Linked DNA regions of Homo sapiens. The protein of the gene in region 1 purifies or fractionates together with the protein of each later gene. This does not show direct contact. Each region holds a gene or a part of one and is shown in the gene's direction. Other genes may lie near its edges.

Region 1 (2,759 bases):
CTCACGCCTGTAATCCCAGCATTTTGGGAGGCCGAGGCGGGCAGATCACGAGGTCAGGAGATCAAGACCATTCTGGCTAACATGGTGAAACCCCATCTCTACTAAAAATACAAAAAATTAGCCGGGCGTGTGGCAGGCACCTGTAGTCCCAGCTACTCGGGAGGCTGAGGCAGGAGAATGGCGTGAACCCAGGAGGCGGAGCTTGCAGTGAGCCGCGTTTGCGCCACTGCACTCCAGCCTGGGCGACAGAGTGAGACTCCGTCTCAAAAAAAAAAAAAAAATTCTGACATATGCTCCAACATGAATGACCCTTGAGGACATTTTGCTCAGTGAAATGAGCCAGTCACAAAAAGACAAATACTGTAGGATTTCACTTTTTTTTGAGACGGAGTCTTATTGTCGCCCAGGCTGGAGTGCAGTGGTGCGATCTTGGCTTGATCTTCACAGAGCAAGACTCTGTCTCAAAAACAATTTTTTTTTTTGGAGACAGAGTCTCACTCTGTCACCCAGGCTGGAGTGCAGTGGTATGATCTCGGGAGGTCACTGGGAGGCTGGTGCTGGGCAGCAGCTAGTGCCACTTTCTCTGTTCCATATTTCAGCGCTTCCAGAGCCAGAACTGAGCCCAGTGAGAGCGCACCCTGGGGCAGCCTGGATTCCTGGGGTGTCCCCGGCAGCCACACACAGCCATGCACTACCCAACTGCACTCCTCTTCCTCATCCTGGCCAATGGGGCCCAGGCCTTTCGCATCTGCGCCTTCAATGCCCAGCGGCTGACACTGGCCAAGGTGGCCAGGGAGCAGGTGATGGACACCTTAGTTCGGGTAAGTTCATCACTTCAGGGAAGCCGTGCCCCTAACCACCATGAGCCAAAGCCCCCATCCCTGCCTGACCAGGGGTATGTTCTAGAGAAGAGGGGAGAAGAAGAGGTGTGGCACGGAGATGCAGCGCAGGCGCTTGCCTGCTGCTGGCCTCAGTCTCCTCCTCTGTGAAACAGGTGACATGTGGGTGGGATGAGTCTTTTCCTGGGGCATTTCCAGTCCCACTGCTTTCTGTGGGCTGCAGTCAGTGAGCCTTAACACTCTGGGCCACAACAGTGCCAGTCCCCTGGGCCCACTGCCTCCTCTCAGGGCAGTTGGCACTGAGTCAGGCTGGCCTTCCTGATGTCCCACAGATACTGGCTCGCTGTGACATCATGGTGCTGCAGGAGGTGGTGGACTCTTCCGGCAGCGCCATCCCGCTCCTGCTTCGAGAACTCAATCGGTGAGGAAGATTCTGTGGGTCTAATCAGGGGCACACCCAGAGGCTTGAGGCCCTGACCCCGCCTCCCCTTTTCTTGGCAGATTTGATGGCTCTGGGCCCTACAGCACCCTGAGCAGCCCCCAGCTGGGGCGCAGCACCTACATGGAGACGTATGTGTACTTCTATCGGTGAGCACGGAGCTGGCAGCGCAGCAGGGTGGGGGGCGGTCCTTGGCCCTAATGTGAGGTAGGCTCATTAGTCCCCGGGGCCACAGGCCCCCCATCCTGGGACAGCCTCACCTGCTTTGCATGCTTTCTCTTCTCAACACCTTTTATTCTGGGCTCTTCCCATCCTCGACCCCCGCCAGAGTGTCCATAGAGCAGGAGGCCTTCCTTCTATAAGCACAAATGTGGGGTCCCTCCTCCTCTCTCCTGTGGGAGCTGCTGGGGCTCAGGGTGTGGCTGGCCCCCTCTATGAAAGTGGCCAGCAAGGGCTGCAGCTCCTGGGAAGAGGCTCCGTGGGGACCACTTATGGGCCTTGGGTAGACCCGATCTTCTAAGTCCCTGGGAGGACAGGCTGGCAGGGAGCCCTTTGGAGTCAGGATCCAGAGGGCAAGGGAGGCTGCAGGGAAGGAGAACTGATTCTCTATATAAATAAAATGATATGACATCTGGTATGCGCTCCAAAATTACTGGGTAGGCAGGGTACAGTGGCTCATGCCTGTAATCCCAACGCTTTGGGAGGCTGAAGCAGCAGGATCACTTGAACCCAAGAGTTCAAGGCTGCAGTGAGCTATGATTGTGCCAGTGCACTGCAGCCTGAGCAACAGAGTGAGACCATGTCTCAAAAAAAAAAAAAAAAAAAAAAAGAATGACATCAAAGTGTCCAAATGTCAAAATGTACTATACCCAGTCCGTGGAATATTATTCAGCCAGAAAGAGGAATGAAGCACAGACGTGCCACAGCATATGGACGAACGCAGAAAACATTGATGAGCTGATTTCATTCATATGAAATATCCAGAATAGGCAAATGTACAAGATAGAGAACAGATTAATGGTTGCAGGGGCTGGGGGGAGGGGAGAATGGAGAGTAACTGGTAATGGATGTTATGTTTTTATTAGGAGTAATGGATACCAATGTTTTAAAATTGATTGTAGAAATAGTTGCACAGCCTTATGAATGTACAAAAGAACCGTGTTGTATACTTGAAGCAGGTGAATTTTATGGCATATGAATTATGCCTGATTTTTGAAAGTTCTAGAGACAGGTTGGGAGGGCTGTGCCCACATTGCCGCTGTTAGTGGAGGGCCCCTCCCTGAGCGCCGTTTGGCACTTGCAAGCCAAAATCAAAGACGTGGGGCCACTGCTGCCCATCCCTTTGTCCTCCCAGGTCACACAAAACACAGGTCCTGAGTTCCTACGTGTACAACGATGAGGATGACGTCTTTGCCCGGGAGCCATTTGTGGCCCAGTTCTCTTTGCCCAGCAATGGTAGGAAGGGAAGGGTGGGCTTGGTA
Region 2 (2,950 bases), on another chromosome or scaffold:
CTGTAGTCCTGGCTAGTCAGGAGGCTGAGATGGAAGGATCACTTGAGCCCAGGAGTTGGAGGCTGCAGTGAGCCATGATGCTGCCACTGCAGGACAGAGCAGACCCTGTCTCTAAATCAAATAAAAATTAAATAAGGGCTATGGGCTGGTGGGCACAGTGGCTCACACCTGTAATCTCAGCACTTTGGGAGGCGGAGGCAGGCAAATCGCTTGAGGCCAGGAGTTTGAGACTAGCCTGGCCAACATGGTGAAACCCTGTCTCTACTAAAAAATACAAAAATTGGCCGGGTGCAGTGGTGTGCACCTGTAATCCCAGCACTTTGGGAGGCTGAGGCGGGCGGATCACCTGAGTTCAGGCATTTGAGACCAGCCTGGCCAACATGGTGTAACCCCGTCTCTACTAAATATACAAAAATTAGTCCGGCATGATGGTGTGCATCTGTAATCCCAGCTACTCAGGAGGCTGAGGCAGGAGAATCGCTTGAACCTAGGAGGCGGAGGTTGCAGTGAATGGAGACTGTGCCACTGCATTCCAGCCTGGGCAATAGAGCGAGACTTCGTCTCAAAAAAAAAAAAAAAAGCCAGGTGTGGTGGTAGGCTCTGACTGTAATCTCAGCTACTTGGGAGGCTGAGGTTGCAGTGAGCCGAGATCGAGCACTCCAGCCTGGGCGACAGAGCGAGACTGTCTCAAAAAATAAATAAATAAACAAATAATAATAATAATAATAATAATAAAGAGCAATGGGACCCAGCAGAAGGATTTGAAGCAGGAGTGGGGAGCATCTGGTTATGCTAGAGAGGAAGATTCATGAGTGAAGGTGAAACCAGATTACCTCATCTCCCTCCTACCCCAGCCTAAGGTGCTGGGCGACGTGTGGGGCGAGATCGGAGGCTAGCCGGGCTTCACGCCTGCGCCCCCAGGTAGCCACGGTCTCTGCTGCCCCCTCGCGGCTGCTTCTTGCCTCGCAGGCCCTGATCCTTTGGATTCGGTCCGCGCAGAGCGCCAACTGGACATGGTGCTAGAGGTTGGGTGGTCAGACACTGTGATCCCGGGTGCTGTGCCCGCACTACGGGAAGGGGAAGCAGCGCGTGGGTCTCGCATCAGGAGGCAAGGCCAGGACCCGCTGACCCATGCCTCCTGCCGCGGTCAGAGCCCAAGTTTGTCAAGGTATTTTGGATCCCGGAGAGCGAGAACCCAGACGACGACAAAATCTACTTCTTCTTTCGTGAGACGGCGGTAGAGGCGGCGCCGGCACTGGGACGCCTGTCCGTGTCCCGCGTTGGCCAGATCTGCCGGGTGAGGAGTCCCTGGGCCACACCCGGCGACCCTGCCCCTACCCCTTTGCCTGCCCTGGTCTCGCCCTCATCCCCTTTGATCGTCCCGGCAGAACGACGTGGGCGGCCAGCGCAGCCTGGTCAACAAGTGGACGACGTTCCTGAAGGCGCGGCTGGTGTGCTCGGTGCCCGGCGTCGAGGGCGACACCCACTTCGATCAGCTCCGTGAGTGCGGGAGTGGGTATGGGGTTGGGGAGGGGGGCAGCGGCGCAGACTCCGGGAGCCCCCGCCGCAGCGGGGCTGTGCGCCCTACCCCAGCTAGGCCCCTTCCCCGCAGAGGATGTGTTTCTGTTGTCCTCGCGGGACCACCGGACCCCGCTGCTCTATGCCGTCTTCTCCACGTCCAGGTGAGGGGCAGGAGGTAGGGAGCGCCCGGGGCGGGCCGCTGGGCTCCACCCGGCCCCTCACCTCGCCCTGGTCTTCGCCTCCAGCAGCATCTTCCAGGGCTCTGCGGTGTGCGTGTACAGCATGAACGACGTGCGCCGGGCCTTCTTGGGACCCTTTGCACACAAGGAGGGGCCCATGCACCAGTGGGTGTCATACCAGGGTCGCGTCCCCTACCCGCGGCCAGGCATGGTTCGTAGCCCAGGGACTTCTGCTACAACCCACTTCAAAGCCTCAAGGGTTTGAGAACTTGGCCTGGGGTCTTCTTGGTGAATGTGGTTTCTTCCTTTAGTTATGGGTGGGAAAACGTTTCCATCATAAGACAAGGCTTGTTTCCCGCCTCTGACTTCCTAGGGCAAGGCTGATCTCCTCTCTAATTCTCAGGGCAGGGTTCTGTCCCCATCCCCCTCCATGTTCCCAGAGGCTGGGCATGGAGGGCTGCCTATCAAGCCCCCATATCTATATCCCTGCTGTGCCTCCCTTTCCCCCACCCCCAGTGCCCCAGCAAGACCTTTGGCACCTTCAGTTCCACCAAGGACTTCCCAGACGATGTCATCCAGTTTGCGCGGAACCACCCCCTCATGTACAACTCTGTCCTGCCCACTGGGGGGCGCCCTCTTTTCCTACAAGTTGGAGCCAATTACACCTTCACTCAAATTGCCGCGGACCGGGTTGCAGCCGCTGACGGACACTATGACGTCCTCTTCATTGGCACAGGTCAGGGTCCCTCCACAGCGACCCCCAGGCTCCCAGCCAGGCCCTGTGGGCTGCTGATGGAAGCTCTCCCTGTTCAGTCCCATCTCCACATCCTTTCCTGGGCTGTGTCTCCACCCTGTGGATGCTGCCCAACCCACACTCTTCCAGTCCACACTCTTCACAACCCAAACATGCTGAGGGTAGACGCCTCAAAGGCGAGGAGACACTAGCCCCAGCTGTCCGGGAGCACCAATGGTCATTACCCCTTCTCATCCCTGCAGACGTTGGCACGGTGCTGAAGGTGATCTCGGTCCCCAAGGGCAGTAGGCCCAGCGCAGAGGGGCTGCTCCTGGAGGAGCTGCACGTGTTTGAGGTGAGGCCTCACCCCCAGTCGCCCGGGACCCCCCCACCCCACTAAGCCCTGACCCCGTCGCCCCTCCTCCCTCTCAGGACTCGGCCGCTGTCACCAGCATGCAAATTTCTTCCAAGAGGGTGAGTGACCAGGATGGGGGTCGGGGTGGGATGGACTGAGCTT
Region 3 (4,145 bases), on another chromosome or scaffold:
CCCAACTCTCTGTCTTTGCCTGTTTCTCTCTCTTCTCTTGTTAAAGCTGCAGAAATCCAGTTTCTTAGAACAGCAGGCAGCCATGTGGTGCTCAGATCCAATTGATAAGGCCTGGGCACAGTTCAGGTTCTGGGACTGGGCCAGTGAGCCTGGAGAAGGACATGTCAGCTGGCTGGGCATTTCCCAGGGAAACTGGGCTCTGTTCTCTGGTGTCTTGGGTGTGTGTCCCTGCTGCCCCCAGCCCTGGCATCCTGGGCACTATGGCACTGACACATTGCTAGCACACTACCACCAGGCAGGCTCACCAAGGCTGCCCCGAGGCTGCCGGCCCCGGGAGCCTGCCTCTGGAAGCTTTGGGGTGCTGACATGATTGGGGAGGGGAGGACTGGCATCTCTCTACAAACAGTACAGAAATGGCCCTCTTCTTTCAGGGAGGACAGCAGATAAATTTCAGCCAGAGAGATTTAGGACACACTGTACTTGGGCTGAGGCAGTCAGGGCTTCTCTGTTCTTGTGATTTCTTTTTTCTTTTTTCTTTTCTTTTCTTTTTTCTTTTTTTTTTTTTTTTTTGAGACAGGGTCTCTCTCTGTCACCCAGTGGCACGATCTTGGCTCACTGTAAACTCTGCCTCCCAGACTCAAGTGATCCTCCCACCTCAGCCCCCTGAGTAGCTGGGACTACAGGTCCATGCCACCATGCCTGGTTAATTTTGTTCGTTTTTTGTAGACAGGGTCTCACTATGTTGCTCAGGCTGGTCTTGAACTCCTGGGCTCAAGCAGTCCTGCCTCAGCTTCCCAAAGTATTGGAATTATAGGCGTGAGTCACTAAGTCCAGCCTCTTGCAGCGCTTAAGAATGAAGACCTAGCCAAGCTAGGGGTGGGTCCAGAGCTGCCTGAAGGTGGAGGGACATGAGCTGTCCACCACGATGGAGGGGTGCCATGCAGCTCGGGGATCACTGCAGCATGTTGTCATGACAGCCAAGGACTGTGGAATTCCCATGGGCAATGTGACACCCCCATCAGGGTGCTGGGGTCTGCCAGGCCCCAGGCAGTCCTCATATGTACCTTGGCCTGTGAGAGGACCTCTACTGAGAGACCATGCCCTGACATCTGGGCTTCTGCAGTGGTGAGATGCCTGCCTGGGGTTTGGATTCCATGGCCTCTGGTGCATCTGAGGAGCTGAAGGGCCGCAGGGGGACCCTGCCTGCCTGTGCTGCCTGCTGTGCCGGGTGCTGGGAAAATAATCCGCAGTCCCTGTCGTCCCTGAGCTTTCAGGCAGATGTTTATCAGAGAATTCCCCTGAGCTTGTGTTGTAGTCTGTCTGCTGCTGCTTTAACAGAATACCCGGGACTGGATAATATAAAGAAAAGGCAGTTTTTGGCTCATGATTCGGGAGGCTGGGAAATCCACGATTGGGTGGGTGCATCTGGCGGGAGCCTTTGTGTTGCATGACAACATTGTGGAAGGTGAGAGGGCAAGAGCACTTGCGGAAAAAAGCATGCTGGGCCGGGCTTGCTCTCTAGAATAACAACCGCTCTCCCGTAAGGAACCCGCTGCCCTCCTGACCTAGGCAGCTCCTCTCAATACTGCTGCCTTGGGAATTAAGCTTCCAACACTTGAACTTTTAGGGAACACACTCAAACCACAGCAGCATATAAGCAGAGAAGGCCAGTCAGGGGAGGCCGGTCAGTGGCGGTGAGGTGTGCAGGGAGCCGTGGAGTGAATGGGGCCAATGCGGGGGTGCACCTGGAAGTCGGAGCTGCGCCTCCAGAGGCCCCAGGGGAGAGTTAGAGTGACAGGAGTGGGTGTGAGTGGGTCCAGGCCGCGCACAGTGGGGGCAGAGCCTGCAGAGCCTCGCAGTCCCAGGGAAGGGATTGATTTTGTCTTTATCACCCGCAATGCCAGGCTGTGAGGGTTTGGGGGCTGGAGGAGAGGGTGAGAGCAGGAGGCACTGGATCGCAGGACACAAGGGACAAAGGTGGAGCTGACAGAATTGGGGTGTGTTTTGGAAGCGAAGCTGGCAGGACTGAGGGGTGAAGTAGGAAAGGACTAGGGGATACCTCTCAGCCTCTCCTGTCCCAGGATGCAGGATTGCACCCCTCCTCAGTTTCCTCTGCCAGCCCCAATCAGCCCCACGACTTCCTGCTGCCGCAGGAAGCACAGGTGGTCCACTGTGGCCTCCTCTTCTCCTGGGCTTCCCTCTTGCCTTGTGCATCTTCCCTGTGCTTCATTCTCCCCTGGAGTTAGGGCAGGCATTCCTTCTTTCTCCATACAGGCACACTTCCTACAGCTGCACGGGAGATCTCTGCCCCCTCCCAACCCTCTACCTCTGACCTTCAGGTAACCTGCCTGCTTGTCATGGTTCAGGTGTTGGCTTTCCCGCTGCTGGTAGCCCGGCAGGATTGGCTCCCACCATGTTCTGCTGATAGAGCTGGGCTTCTGCGCTTTACAGACAGGCTGAGTTTCTCCACTTAGGAGGTGATGACGATGAGTCTCAGGGAGGCTAAGTGCCAGCCATGGTCATTCAGCAAGTCAGTGGTGGAGCAGGAATTTGAAGCCAGCCTGTCTGCCTCCATGCTGCACTGTTAGATTACATTTATGCTATTTGGGAATTAGTTAATTTTTATTCTCCTGCTAGACCTTAAGCTCCTTGAGGGTAAGACTATGTCTCCATCGTGGTTTCTTCAGCACCTGGCACCACACAAGTGTTTCTGTTGGTGGATGAATGAATGAATAGACAGACAGACTTGGGGATAGAGGAAGAGGTGGGCCCTCAGGGGTCAGCCTCGTGCCTTCCTGTCTGAAGGGCAGAGCTAGCCAGGTGTGAGCTAACTGCTCCCTGTGTGTTCTCTCCCCACCCCCACCCTACCTGGCCTGCGGCTGTGGCGGATGGCAGATGTTCGCCGAGGAGGAGGCTGAGCTGACCCAGGAGATGTCCCCAGAGAAGCTGCAGCAGTATCGCCAGGTACACCTCCTGCCAGGCCTGTGGGAACAGGGCTGGTGCGAGATCACGGCCCACCTCCTGGCGCTGCCCGAGCATGATGCCCGTGAGAAGGTGCTGCAGACACTGGGCGTCCTCCTGACCACCTGCCGGGACCGCTACCGTCAGGACCCCCAGCTCGGCAGGACACTGGCCAGCCTGCAGGCTGAGTACCAGGTGCTGGCCAGCCTGGAGCTGCAGGATGGTGAGGACGAGGGCTACTTCCAGGAGCTGCTGGGCTCTGTCAACAGCTTGCTGAAGGAGCTGAGATGAGGCCCCACACCAGGACTGGACTGGGATGCCGCTAGTGAGGCTGAGGGGTGCCAGCGTGGGTGGGCTTCTCAGGCAGGAGGACATCTTGGCAGTGCTGGCTTGGCCATTAAATGGAAACCTGAAGGCCATCCTCTTTCTGCTGTGTGTCTGTGTAGACTGGGCACAGCCCTGTGGCCGGGGGGTCAGGTGAGTGGTTGGGTGATGGGCTCTGCTGACGTGCAGGGCTCAGCCCAGGGCATCCAGGAACAGGCTCCAGGGCAGGAACCTGGGCCCAGGAGTTGCAAGTCTCTGCTTCTTACCAAGCAGCAGCTCTGTACCTTGGGAAGTCGCTTAATTGCTCTGAGCTTGTTTCCTCATCTGTCAGGAGTGCCATTAAAGGAGAAAAATCACGTAGAAAGCTTCACACTAGTGCTGGCACCCCCCAGCTGTGAGGTAAGGCAGGGAATCATCTCACTGCCCCTCTATCGGTGCCCACATAACAGCCTCAAGGCCGCTGACCTGGCCGGCGCCTGAGGCCTGTCCATACACTGGTGCTGTGGTGACCCAGGCAGCTGATGGGCTTGACAGCTGCTGGAGTGATGGGTGCTGGAGCAATGGGTGCCGGGGTGGGGTGCTGAGAGGTGCTGGACTCTGGAGGCCCAGGGGCCAGGCCTTACTCTGGGAGAAAGCTGGCAGTGGGAGCCCAGGGGAGCCCAGGCCTGCCTGGCCCACCTGACAGGGGAGAAGTGCCTCTCTGTGGCCTTGCACCACTTCTGTGTCCAAGCAGAAACAGGGCCAAGCCCAAGGAGGAGGCCTCAGAGCTGGGAGCAGCCGTGCCTGGCGAGTCCCGGCCCCTACCCAGGCTGGCGGAGTCCCGGGCTGGAGCTGGCTGCAGGTTGCCATGGCAACCCGGG
Region 4 (2,228 bases), on another chromosome or scaffold:
CTGGGCAACAAGAGTGAAACTCCATCTCAAAAAAATAAAAATAAAATAAGTAAGTAATACCTAAAATTCTGCAACCTTCATTTTACTATAGATGGTTGAAGATTATATTACTTCTTAATTGTTTTAGCCTTGTTATTGCTTCATTACTTCATGGTTGTTGAGTACAGATGCTCAGTAATCATAACCTATGAAATATTTGACACCATGATCTAAACATTAAAAACAAATAACTGTGCTATTGCCACAGCTATGTTTTGGCTTTGAATTTTCTTTACTGAATATTTTGGATCAAGAACACTAGATGAGAAACCTGTTCAACTCTGTTCTTTTTTTTTTTTTTAACTCCACTGTATTTATTACCTGTTTTTGTTTTTTTTGTTTGTTTGTTTTTGATGTGCATATAGACCAAGATGTGGTAAATTTAAATGGCAGATGTTTTTGATGTGGTACATTTAAGGGAGAGAAAGCAGTTTAAAGAGCAGGGTGAAAAATCCAACAAGACTCCATCGAGAGTTTCTGAGCTCTCCCATCAGGGGCCAGTCCTCCTTTCCTCTCTCCTCTTACTCCCATGATTTCCAAGTTGTGATCCTTTCCTTATTTCTGAGGAATGACTTGGTTTCTCCTCTTCTTTTTTTGGCCTGAGAGAAGATGTTTTTGCACTTGTAGCTATGAGGAACAGATTGTCCACTAGGGAGGCCAGCTGATCATTTTCTGCCAGAGTCACACAGAGCAGTCACACCTTATTTTGAAAACCACTGTCTGGGGTCTTTGTCCTCACATATGCAGGTCTAGTGTCCCCACAAAGTGATCAGATGGATATATAAAGTGGAGTGCCAATGTATTAATTTACTGTGAGAAACACAATTGCTAAGTGGGTCAGATATCTGTCTCAGCTGGTCAGTACACCTTCCAGCAGGAAAATCTACATAAGAACAACTAAATCACAATCTGTAGAGTGCTTGATGACCCCAGAATTGGTGCAAGGGGACACATTCTTGCTTGTTAGCACCTGCTCTCTGGAGTTTGCTATTTTCTCACACACAGTGTATTAGTTCACAGAATGTTCTCCAAGGAGGACAGGGGGCTTTGCCCATAGCCATGTGCTGTGGGCAGCAGAGCTAGGAAGAAGCACAGGCATCTCCCAGCCCAGGTGTTTCCCACTTAACTGCATTGCCCTTTTCATCTTTTTTTTTTCCCCAATAGCTTCAGGACATTCAGTACATTGTGCTTTTTAGAGGTTGATGATTCCACTGCCTGAGCTGCCTTCACCTCTCTTTCTTTGGAAATTGCCATCTTTGAGCATTGTATGTCTCTGTAACATCTCTGCATCTCCTTTTCACTCTGGCCTCCCTTTCTCCATTGTCCTTCTAGCTTCTGGTTGCCCCAAACCCCACAGACTGTGTAACAAAACCCAAAACCTATTGGTTTAAAACAATACCCATTTTATTTTCTTTCATAGTTTCTATGGGTCAGGAATTTGGATATGGCTTGGGTAAGCAGTTCTGGCTTCTCATGGAGTTGGAGGCAAGTGGTGGCTGGAACAGAAATGGGGCAGCCAGGGGTGGTGGCCAGGCATCAGCTACATCTCCTCCATGTAGTCTCAGGAACTCTCCATGTAATCTCTCTGTGTGGGTTGGGCTTCCTCACAACATGGTGGCCTCAGGGCAGTCACTGCTTACATGGCAGCTAGCTTCCCTCAGAGTGAGTATCCCAAGAGATCACAGTCAAAGTGCATAGCATTTATATAATCTAATCTTGGAAGTCACAAAATGTCATTCTTGTGATACTCTCATTGGTGAAGAAGTCATAAAATCCTGCTCAGGTTCAAAAAGAGGGTGTATAGAACCCAACACTCAATAGGAAGATTGTCAGAGTTACATTGTAAGAAGAGCATGTAGTTGGGAGATATCATTGTGGCCATTTTGGGAAAGATGCAACATGTCACAATGTCATGTTCTCCATCGTCTCCCCGTTCCACCTTGTACTGGTTTCCAAGGGTAGTCGTTTAAAAGTACCACAAAAACTGGGTGGCTTGGAACAACAGAAATTTATTGTTTCACAGTTCTGGAGGCCAGAAGTTCAAAATGAAGTGTTGGCAGAAACATGCTGCCTCTAAAGGGACTGGGAAAGGATCTGTTCCAGGCTTCCCTCCTATCTTCTGGTTGTTCCTTGCCTTCTGGCTGCGTAACTCTAGTCTTCATTTGGTGTTCTCCCTGCATGCATGGCTT
Region 5 (3,958 bases), on another chromosome or scaffold:
TCAGCCTCCTAAAGCGCTGGTATCACAGGCGTAAGCCACTGCGCCCGCCCTGAAATTTTAATATCGCACATGCACTGCATATCTCTTTAGTACTATACGTATATCTGGGCTTTACACAAAAAGAATATTTTTCTTCTCTTCACTTCTCCCATCCCCCCCAAAAAAACTAATTTCTGTCGTTTTGGGGACAATATTACTCTCACTGAGAGTGCATGTTCACATACAACCATGAATAGAGGTGGTTGCCATGGGCTATACCAGAAATCCCCATAATTAATAGGGCATTAGGTAGAATATTCATAGGGGTCTTGCCTCAGTCCTGGCAAGTCCTAGACCATGTATTACTATGGCGGCCCCACTGAACAAATCTTCAAAGATTTGGAAAAAAAGATCAAACCGTTTCCAATAACTAATTGGCATCTCTGAGCAAAGTTCACATGTATTTCCAGTAACATAAAACTATCCAACACCAGGCCGGGCACAGTGGCTCATGCCTGTAATCCCAGCACTTTGGGAGGTCGAGGCAGGCAGATCACGAGGTCGGGAGATGGAGACCATCCTGCTAACAAGGTGGAAACCCCGTCTCTACTAAACATACAAAAATTAGCCGGGCGTGGTGTTGGGCGCCTGAAGTCCCAGCTACTCGGGAGGCTGGGGCAGGAGAATGGCATGAACCCGGGAGGCAGAGTTTGCAGTGGGCCGAGATTGCGCCATTGCACTCCAGCCTGGGCAACAGAGCCAGACTCCATCAAAAAAAAATCCAACACCCAACGAGGTAAAATCACAATGTCTGGTATACAATAAAAAATTACCAAGTGTGTGAAGAGGCAGAAAAATAGGACCTATAATGAGGATAAAAATCAATCTAAAATGACCCAGCACATACCCAGATGTTAGAATTACTAATGAAAAATATTATGACTATATTCCGTATTTTCAAAGATTAGGATGTGACAAGAAAAGGCTTTAATTAAACTTCGAGAGATGACAATGTTAATGTATAAGATTAAAAAATACAATGGATGTAATTAATGGCAGATGAGAGTTTTCAGAAGAAAATATTAATAAACTTGAATATATATAGCAGTAGAAAGCATCCAAAATGAAACAGAGACAGAAAAAAAACAAAGAATAATCAGAGTATCGGTGATCTGTGGGACAACTTCAGTTGCCTAATCTGTGTGTATTTGGAGTTCTCAAAGGAGAAAAGAGAGTGGATGGATAGAAAAAAATATTTTTAAAAATTAATACATAAGCATTTTCCACATTTGATGCAAACTATAAACCCACAGACCCAGCTCAACATCCCCAAGTAGGGGTGCTATTAAGAAAACCACATCACAACACATCATAAGCAAATGGATCAAAACTCAGTGTGGTAAAGAGAAAAAGACAAGTCTTACACAGAGAAGAAAAACAAGGATGATACCAGACTTCTTTTTGGAAGCAATGCAAGGGGAAGGGCAGTGGAGCAACATCTTTCATGCTTCCAGTGAAACATCTTCCAACCAAAAGCAGAAAACTCTCTCTCCTAGGTTTCTATACCCAGCAAAACCGTCTTTCAAGAAAGGATGAAACAAAGATATTTTTCAGACATAGAAAAGTTAAAAGTAATATATTATCAGCAAACCTGGACTATGAGAACAGTGTAAAAGCCTTTCAGGAAGAAGGAAAATAAAGAATAATATCTTTGTGCAGATAGAAACATGGATCCACACAAAGAAATGAAGAGCACTGGCAATAGTAACACCATAAGTAAATATACAATACCTGCCCTTATTACTTAAATATCTTTTAAAGATAATTGGCTGTTTAGAAATAATAGCAGTGTCATGTGAGTTCTGCAGCATGAGTAAAAGTAAAATATATGACAACAATAACCTAGAGTAAATGGAAATATAGTTTAGTTTGTAAGGTTCTTAGACTGTGTGTAAAGTCGTATAATGCCTATTAAAAGTTGGCTATTACAAGTTATCTTTAAGTTAAAACATCTGTATGGTGTAATCCCTAAAGCAAATGCTAGAGTAACAAAAACAGTGATAATATTACAATATTACACAATAATATTACAATGCAGCGATGAAATAGAATAAATTTTTAAATGCTTGAAAGTAGACAAAAAAGATGAGAAAGAGGACAAAGAACAAATGGGACAAATAGAAAGCAAATAGCAAGATATAAAATAAAAATCTGATAAATTTGACCTTAAGATTAACAACTCTCCTTTTAAAATACATTGTTAAGAGAATAAGAGTCAAGCTACAGACTGGGAGAAAATATTTGCAACACTTTATTTGAATGCTGTAAATTTTTTTCAGAATATAGTTCATAAAGAACTCTTAACAACTCAATAATTAGCAAAAATAAAATGAAAATAATGAATATAAGAAAAAATGACGAAAAGTGCTAGGCCAGTGGACAAAAAGCACACAAAAATGTTCAATATCGTTTTGTCATTAAGGAAATGCAAATTAAAACCACAGTGAGTTATTCTTCCCACTAAAATGGTTATGATTAAAAATATTGTCAGTACCACGTGTTGTTGAGAATATGGAGCAATTATAATTCTCATACATTATTGTTGGAATGTAAAATGCTACAACCACTTAGGAAAAATTGTTTAACATTGTTTTATATAATTAAGCATACATGAAACCTATGACCCAACAATTCCAATCCTAGATTGAAAAGAAATGAAAACTTATGCCCATTATAAGACTTACACAAGAACGTTTATAGCATCTTTACTTATAATATCCCCAAACTGTAAACTGCCTAAAAGACCTTCAACAAGAAAATGGACAAACAATTTGTGTTGTATTAATAATGAAATACTCTTCAGCTATAAAATGGACAAAACTACTGGTAACTGCAACAAACATGGCTGAATCTAAAAAACCTTGTGTTGAATGAATAAATCTAGACACTATAGGGTACATTCTGAAGTCCTAGAACAAGCGAAACTAAGATATAGCAGTAGAAATTGTATCAGTAGTTACCTGGGTTGAGGTGGGATGGGAGTTGACTGCAGAGAAACACAAGGGAAGTTTCTGGAGTGATGGAAATGTTCTATGTCTTGATTGACTATGGTTACATTGGTGTGGACATTTGTCAAAACTCTGAATTTCATATTTGGAATTTGTATATTTTGTATATAAATTATACTTCAATAAATATGTACATGTATATATATGTGTATATATAATACATTTTGATATGTCATGATGTCTATCACTTCACAGCATATTATATTTCTATCATACCATATTTACATAATGGAAAAAGATGAAAAGGATGCTGTATTTTGGGGAAATCACAAGAGATTATCACCTTTATTTATTTTTTATACAAATACATATAAATCTTTCACAGTACAATACAAATGTCAAAATGTGGTATTTTCATTGCTCTATAAATTCTTATATGTTCTATGTATGTAATAAATGTTAAAAACAGTGTTTATATGTTGTATATGTTTATTTGTTCTATGTGTTTACATGTTCACTGTTCTATAAATTCTCATATATTGTATACTATACAATCAGGTGATGAGCTGCTCAGTAAATAAGTGCTGAACACTCTGCATCCCTCATCACGTCAAGCATTTCACATCCCTTTTCCTGTAGGCTTCCACAGTAGACATTTGACTTGCCAATTACATTTTCATCCATCATTCTGGAGAAGCCTGGAGAAACAGCTAGACACAGGGGACATACTCCTATACCTTGCTCATTGTGCCTTGGAATTATACATATTGAAATATTGTAAAGATTTGCTTCATTTGTATCAACATGGCTGTGAAATTAGATGTCAACTCTACCTCAGTTCCAACTTTTAGGAGGAATCCAGATAGTTTATTAGAAAATAGAAGTGCAAAAATGTTTGCTGTTTGATTCTCAGACCATAGCCTGAGATTAGCAATATTAAAAAAAAAAATAGCAGACAGAAGAGGCCCAAG
Region 6 (3,500 bases), on another chromosome or scaffold:
TTTTTTTTTTTTTTTTTTTTTGAGATAAGGTCTCATTGTGTTGCCCTGGCTGGAGTACAGTGGCTATTCACCAGTGCAAACATAGTGCACGATAGCCTCCAACTCCTGGGCTCAAGCCATCTTCCCGTTTCAGCCTCCAAAGTAGCTAAGACTACAGATGCTTGCCACTGTGCTCGGCTAATCTGAGTTTTACATCAAAAATTGTCTAAATATGATTTTTATATTGTGTTAAAAACACAATATTTTGATGACTGATCATTCTGGCTTTCAAGTAGATGCTGCAAATGAGCAAGTGGACAGGAAGTGCTTTGCTAAAGCCTCAGAAATTTGGGCATTTCTTGGGTTTGATACTTCTATGATAATTATCCACAAATTATAACTCAAATACTCTAGACTTTGTGTCAGCAGCTTAGCAAGGCATGTAGTTTAGAGCAGAACTTGGGAATAGCCAGTCCTCACTGCTGTCGAGTGCAGTGTAACTTCTGGGCTAGTCATATTAGAAGCCTTCCTCGCTGATGGGATCTAGACTAGAAGATGTTGGATGAAAAGATAAGTTAAAGCAGAACATCACACAAAAGGAGTATGCACCTGAAACTTTATTTTGACTTAAAATCTGCCAATATACATTCATTGACTTAAATGAGTGACATTAAGCTTACTGGATGACTTCGCAACACATGCCTTCTGTCTCTTACTCATTCAACAAATACTCTTCAGGTGTCTTTTATATACCGGGTGGGCACTTCTAGACACAGGCTGAGGCAGTGAGCGGGACTAAGCCCCGACCTTTGTGGAGTATTCATTCTAGTGGTAATGGACAGCTAGCTTCTAAACACCTGAATGCACAAGTAATTTAAAAATGGGATAAATTGATGAGAAAATAAAACAGTATTGGAACCAAGAGTAATGGAATTGGAAATTACTGTGGAGAGAGACTCTGAAGAGTTAATATGTGAGTGGACTTAATGAATGAGCCAGGCATTTGAGGGTCTAGGGAAGAATATCACAGGCAGAGGAACAGGAAGTGCAAAGTCCCTGAGTGGGAGCATCTTCATGTTCCCATGTCTATGGAGGCCCCTATGGCTGGAGCAGAGTGATCTAGGGGAGAGGTACACATGAGCCTGGAGGCCATGGTAGGATGTGTGGATTTTATTCTGCGTGATGAGGAACCTGCCCTGGTTTTTGGCATAGGGAAGTAGTTTCCTGAAGAAGTGACATTAAAGCTGAGACTGGAAGAGTAAGAATTAGCCAGGGCAGGCCGGGCGTGGTGGCTCACGCCTGTAATCCCAGCACTTTGAGAGGCCAAAGTGGGCAGATCCCCTGAGGTCAGGAGTTCAAAACCTGCTTGGCCAACATGGTGAAATACTTTCTCTGTTAAAAATACAAAAATTAGCCGGGCATGGTGATGGGCACCTGTAATCCCAGCTACTCGGGAGGCTGAGGCAGGAGAACCACTTGAACCTGGTAGGCCAGTGAGGCCAGTGAGCCGAGATTGCACCACTGCACTCCAGCCTGGGTGACAGGGTGAGACTCTGTCTCAAAAAAAAAAGCATTAGCCAAGGCAAAATGAGGTTAGAGCTTATGTCTGGAAGAGGAAGTGAAAGAGATTGATTGTTCGTGTGCCACTCGGATTCTTAGTTTCCTACTTTGTAAAATAAGGATAATGGTAGCTTTCCCACAGGGTAGTTATGAGGATTAGATAAAATTATGTAAAATAATAGCACTGAGGCTGGGTACGGTGGCTCACACCTGTAATCCCAGCACTTTAGGAGGCCAAGGCGGGTAGATCACCTGAGGTCGGGTTTGAGACCAGCCTGGCCAACATGGTAAAACCCCATCTCTACTAAAAATACAAAAAATTAGCCGGCGTGGTGGCGCATGCCTGTAATCCCAGCTACTCGGGAGGCTGCGGCAAGAGAATTGCTTGAACCTGGGAGGCGGAGGTTGCAGTGAGCTGAGATTGCGCTATTGCACTCCAGCCTGGGTGACAAGAGCAAGACCCTGTCTCGAAAATGATAATAATAATAATAATAATAATAATAATAATAATAATAGCACTGAGTAGTAGACTGATCTAAGTAGTAGTTCATTCATTCAACGTTTATTAAATACCTACTATGTGCTAGGCACTAGAGATATACAAATGAGACAGGCCCATAGACAGGTAGTTATGATATAGCATGGTGGCTCTTTCGCCTGCCTGCCTGCCTGCCTGCCTTCCTGCCTTCCTGCCTGCCTGCCTGCCTGCCTGCCTGCCTTCCTTCCTTCCTTCCTTCCTTCCTTCCTTCCTTCCTTCCGTTTGTCTGTCCATCCGTCTTTTATTTTTTTTTAAATAAGAGTGTCTCACTCTGTCACCCAGCCTAGAACTCAGTGGTGCAATCATAGCTCACTGCAGCCTCAAACGTTTGGGCTCAAGGGATCCTCCTGCCTCAGCCTGCCTGCCTAGTAGCTAGTACTACAGGTGCACACCACCACATCTGACTAATTTTTTTATGTGGATATTTTGTAGAGATGGGGTCTTGCTACTTTGTCCAGGCTGGTCTTGAACTCCTGGTCTCAAGCACTCCTACCACCTTGGTCCTGAACTCTTTATGAGAGGATAAGACAGGGAAGATTTGGTTATTTTAATACCAATGTCTGGCGTATTTGAACTAGAATGACTCCTAACCTCAGTGTACACTGTAAATGATCTTTTTTAAACAGACATTTCAGGGTTTCATCTCTTTTAAGTGTGAATATCTATTAAGCAGCTGCTCTTTAGCATGTGTGTATACATAAAAATATAACATGCTTTTTTTTTTTTGAGACGGAGTCTCGCTCTGTCGCCCAGGCTGGAGTGCAATGGCATGATCTCAGCTCACTGCAAGCTCCACTTCCCGGGTTCATGCCATTCCCCTGCCTCAGCCTCCCGAGTAGCTGGGACTACAGGCGTTTGCCACCACATCCGGCAAATTTTTTGTATTTTTAGTAGAGACAGGGTTTCACCGTGTTAGCCAGGATGGTCTCAATCTCCTGACCTCATGATCTGCCCGCCTTGGCCTCCCAAAGTGCTGGGATTACAGGCATGAGCCACCGTACCCGGCTATAACATGCTTTTTAAATTATTTAAAATTTTTTTCAGTTTTTAATTATTTTTTCCTATTATTTGTTTTTCTTCTTTATTCAAGTTTCCACACTCCACATCAAACATGCCTTTTTTAGTGACTGCTGTTTGGTGGCATGTATGCCAGTGTGCTTCCTTCTGAAAATACCAGTGTAGTATAATAAAATATTTGATTGCTGGGGTTTCTTAATAAAACAGCCCTGGGAAATTCCAGTGATTGCTTTGTCTTTTTTTTTCTTTTTCCTTTGTATTGCTTCCCTTTACTACTACTGTATAGATTTTTTTCTTCATGGAGTTTATTCTTTTTTTTTTTTTTTTGAGGGTCATACTCTGTCACCCAGGCTGGAATGCAGTGGCACGATCTCGGCTCACTGCAGCCTCTATCTCCCAGATTCAA
Region 7 (3,500 bases), about 130 Mb from region 1:
CATTATGGGACTCTTCACCAATTTATAATTTTTTGTAGCAGTTACACAGGAACAGTATTCAGTTTACTGATGGATATGAAGTAAAAGAAGATATTGGAGTTGGCTCCTACTCTGTTTGCAAGAGATGTATACATAAAGCTACAAACATGGAGTTTGCAGTGAAGGTAAATTTTTTTTATTTAAAATGCAATTCATACAGTTCTTGTTCATGCATGTCAGTACCAGTTAAAAATTACACTCCCCTTGTTGTTAAAAGTGCCTTTTGTTATAAAAAAGTTAAATATCTGGCTAGTGATCTTCAGAGATCTTAATCTAGAACCCTGTGAGCTAAAGGTAAGGTGGTTATATATCTAGTTTTCCCAGAGCAGTAGCAGTTTACACCTCAAGTGATTTTTTTTCTTTTTTTACCTCAAGTGATTTTTAAAGTATCTTTTTACTCTGAGAAGTCCCCATTTTATGCTCAGGGTGTCAGCAAATTCCTCAAAATTGTGTGCAAAATTTTGTATGTTTACATCTTCTCTGGCAAAAAGTTCATACCTTTCTTTGCATCTAAAAGGATCTGGGAACTAATGAATAAAAACCACTATCATAAAATTCGTTATCATTGGCTGTTTTAATTTCATCAAGTATCCTAAGACAGAATTTTCTAAGCCAAAAACCAAGGAACCTAGCTCTACGATAAAGTTTGAATTTCAAACCTTTAGTCGTAAGTGAACAAGCACTATGTTCAAGTCTCTTTTCACTTCTTGGAATAGTAACCTCTGCTCTCCAATCTCAAGCAATTCAAACAATGTCTAAAGCTTTCAACTTGTTTGAACCTTAGGACTGGTTTATAAATATACATAGCTCATGTTTAGAGAGATAGTGACATTAGTTGTTATCACTCTTCTAAACTTAGATGTAACTGCTTTAAAGTCGTCAGTGTCTATAGGGCTTTCTGTCAGATAGAAGGATGAACCATAAAAATACATTTAATTTGCTTCATTGGAAGGACAATAAAGCTAATTTTAAAGAAGGAAATTCTTAAAAGAAATACATTTAATTTTCTATTTTCCTATTCATTGCTCTTACTGAAATCTAAGATACATAGAAGTTTTCAAATTGCTTACATGAAAGGAGAAAAGACTAATAATGTATTTGGTAGGCAGTTTAAGGATGTGTCTTGCCTCCATAAATACATCATAAAAAGCAGAAATGTCCTGAGGCCCCTTTGAATTACAGAAACCTTGAGGACTATGCCTAAAACCTCAAAAATATCTCCAAGCTATTTGTGGATTTTTGTAACTTAAATGATTCATAAAACCAATCCCAACACAACTGGATTCTACTGAAATTACCACATATTTGAGGTCCACAAGCACAAGTATAGATCTAATGCAAACTGGGCTCAGATTAGCAGATCCATGCCAAAAACGACCCCTCCCAGTGTGTTCTGGTTTTCAAAAGACTAGTCCCAGGTCATCTCTTAAATTAGCATGTCTATTCCATATACCTCTCCTCTTAATCACCCATTTGCCTAATTCCACACTATCATTTGCAGTTGATTACAGTGGGCACCTGTATGTTTACCTTCCCTGTTCTCCAAATACAGAACTGTTATACAAGTACAGTCTACCCTTGAATAACACAGGACTTGGGAGTGCTGATCCCCAAGCAGTTGAAAATCCACGTATAACTTGACTCTCCAAAACTTAACTGCTCATAGCCTACTGTTGACCAGAAGCCTCACTGATAGCATATATAGTCGATTATTTTGTATGTTATATGTATTATATACTGTATTCTTACAATAAAGTAAGCTAGAGAAAAGAAAGTGTTATTAAGAAAATCATGCCAGACATAGTGTCTCACGTTTGTAATCCTAGCACTTTGGGAGGCCGAGGTGGGAGGATTGCTTGAGGCCAGGAGTTTGAGACAAGCCTGGGCAACAGAGCAAGACCCTATCTCTACAGAAAAATTGTTTAAAAATTAGCCAGGCGTGGCTACATGTGCCTGTAGTCCCAGCTACTCAGGAGGCTGAGACGGAAGGATTGCTTGAGCTCAGGAGGTTCAGGCTGCAGTGAGCTATGTGCCACTGTACTCTAGCCTTGGCAACATAGCCAGACCTCATCTCTACAAATAATTTTTAAAATTTTCTGAGTGTAGTGGTATGTGCCTGTGGTCCCAGCTACTCAGGAGGTAGAGGTGGGAGGATCACTTGGGCCCAGGGGTTTGAGGTTGCAGTGAGCCGTGATTGCGCCACTACACTCCACCCTGGGCAACAGAGCAAGACCCTGTCTCAAAAAAAGAAAAAATATATATAAGGAAGAGAAAATACATTTACTGTTCATTAAATGGAAGTGGATCATAATAAAGGTCTTTTTCCTCATCATTTTCACCTTAAGTAGGCTGAGGAGGGAGGAAGAAGAGAAGGAGTTGGTCTTGGTGTCTCAGGGGTGGCAGAAGCAGAAGAAAATCCACGTGTAATTGGTCCCTCATAGTTCAAACCTGTGTTGTTCAAGGGTCAACTATAAATCCATTTCAGATAGAAGACTGGACCCATGCTTGAGAGTTGTAACCTCTTTCCTAGGTTGCTGGAGTGTCTGGGTATTTAGTGCATACTTAATTACTAAGCTGTTTAAAATTGAACATACAAAGGCCACCTAATTTGTTTCAGACTACCCTTTGAATGAATAGAAAGCAAAATTTGTCTTTTTTATATAATATTAGTTGAGCAGATTAAAACATTAAGAAAAATATTTTTAAGGAGCAGCCAATATAAAAGGGTTAGAAAGCTACATTACTATTTTAAAGGGCTTTATTATAATAATTAAACCAAATTCTAACCAAATAAAATGCTAGGTATGATTTTCTATGTAGCTTTCTGCCTAACTTCAAAAACAAGATTGTTCTACTTAGCAGATAATTAGCTTTTATAAGTAGCTTACAGCTAACAGGATATTCAATTGAAGCATTTTATTAAAGGAAGTAAACTTAATTCAATAAGCAGATGCTAGTGGTGGTGTTATATCTAGCTCTTAATTATCTGTATTGATGGGGGGTTAGAAGTTGACTGAGTTCCCAAATGTTTAAGGCCTCAAGGATAGAAGAAAAGATATGTTAACTGTGTTCTTGGTACCTTTTCTCGAGGCTTTTTGAGTTTTTGGTTAAGTCCTAAACTTACTACAAACTTACAAACTTAGATTGGAGAGGCATGGTGGGAATGCGACTCATGAGTTAGAATTTACAGCCTTGCCATCTATATCAAGACTGGCTTTCTGATTAAACAATCTGGCCAGGTAGTTGAATAAAACTGACTGATAAATGGCTTATTTATACACTATTTACATGAGGTAATACCCAAGGTCTGTAGCTATAAACAATTAATGTTTATAACTGTATAGTTGATGAGGTTTTGTGATAAACATTTGCCTTTTAGATTATTGATAAAAGCAAGAGAGACCCAACAGAAGAAATTGAAATTCTTCTTCGTTATGGACAGCATCCAAACATTATCACTC

Evidence for each region.
Region 2: the proteins of DNASE1L1 (region 1) and SEMA3B purify together in Homo sapiens (affinity purification with mass spectrometry; one large-scale study listed by BioGRID and IntAct). This does not show direct contact.
Region 3: the proteins of DNASE1L1 (region 1) and SIL1 purify together in Homo sapiens (co-immunoprecipitation; 2 studies listed by BioGRID and IntAct, with this or other methods). This does not show direct contact.
Region 4: the proteins of DNASE1L1 (region 1) and MR1 purify together in Homo sapiens (affinity purification with mass spectrometry; one large-scale study listed by BioGRID and IntAct). This does not show direct contact.
Region 5: the proteins of DNASE1L1 (region 1) and CNTNAP3 purify together in Homo sapiens (affinity purification with mass spectrometry; one large-scale study listed by BioGRID and IntAct). This does not show direct contact.
Region 6: the proteins of DNASE1L1 (region 1) and GPR107 purify together in Homo sapiens (affinity purification with mass spectrometry; one large-scale study listed by BioGRID and IntAct). This does not show direct contact.
Region 7: the proteins of DNASE1L1 (region 1) and RPS6KA3 purify together in Homo sapiens (affinity purification with mass spectrometry; one large-scale study listed by BioGRID and IntAct). This does not show direct contact.

Annotation. Positions count from the first base shown.
Region 1 is NC_000023.11:154,403,496-154,406,254, reverse strand, and holds part of DNASE1L1 (deoxyribonuclease-1-like 1 precursor), read left to right. Parts: intron 1-599; 5' UTR 600-686; coding exon 687-821; intron 822-1,171; coding exon 1,172-1,260; intron 1,261-1,340; coding exon 1,341-1,427; intron 1,428-2,632; coding exon 2,633-2,733; intron 2,734-2,759.
Region 2 is NC_000003.12:50,272,147-50,275,096, forward strand, and holds part of SEMA3B (semaphorin-3B isoform 1 precursor), read left to right. Parts: intron 1-972; exon of another isoform or gene 973-1,151; coding exon 1,152-1,297; intron 1,298-1,388; coding exon 1,389-1,500; intron 1,501-1,597; coding exon of another isoform or gene 1,598-1,612; coding exon 1,613-1,682; intron 1,683-1,766; coding exon 1,767-1,911; intron 1,912-2,216; coding exon 2,217-2,436; intron 2,437-2,696; coding exon 2,697-2,788; intron 2,789-2,865; coding exon 2,866-2,907; intron 2,908-2,950. UniProt on the Homo sapiens protein: Inhibits axonal extension by providing local signals to specify territories inaccessible for growing axons.
Region 3 is NC_000005.10:138,946,224-138,950,368, reverse strand, and holds the end of SIL1 (nucleotide exchange factor SIL1 precursor), read left to right. Parts: intron 1-2,895; coding exon 2,896-3,252; 3' UTR 3,253-3,645; downstream 3,646-4,145.
Region 4 is NC_000001.11:181,057,983-181,060,210, forward strand, and holds part of MR1 (major histocompatibility complex class I-related protein 1 isoform 1 precursor), read left to right. Parts: 3' UTR 1-2,228. UniProt on the Homo sapiens protein: Antigen-presenting molecule specialized in displaying microbial pyrimidine-based metabolites to alpha-beta T cell receptors (TCR) on innate-type mucosal-associated invariant T (MAIT) cells.
Region 5 is NC_000009.12:39,064,210-39,068,167, reverse strand, and holds the end of CNTNAP3 (contactin-associated protein-like 3 isoform 1 precursor), read left to right. Parts: 3' UTR 1-3,458; downstream 3,459-3,958.
Region 6 is NC_000009.12:130,060,406-130,063,905, forward strand, and holds part of GPR107 (protein GPR107 isoform 3 precursor), read left to right. Parts: intron 1-3,500. UniProt on the Homo sapiens protein: Has been proposed to act as a receptor for neuronostatin, a peptide derived from the somatostatin/SST precursor.
Region 7 is NC_000023.11:20,169,410-20,172,909, reverse strand, and holds part of RPS6KA3 (ribosomal protein S6 kinase alpha-3), read left to right. Parts: intron 1-38; coding exon 39-164; intron 165-3,418; coding exon 3,419-3,500. UniProt on the Homo sapiens protein: Serine/threonine-protein kinase that acts downstream of ERK (MAPK1/ERK2 and MAPK3/ERK1) signaling and mediates mitogenic and stress-induced activation of the transcription factors CREB1, ETV1/ER81 and NR4A1/NUR77, regulates translation through RPS6 and EIF4B phosphorylation, and mediates cellular proliferation, survival, and differentiation by modulating mTOR signaling and repressing pro-apoptotic function of BAD and DAPK1.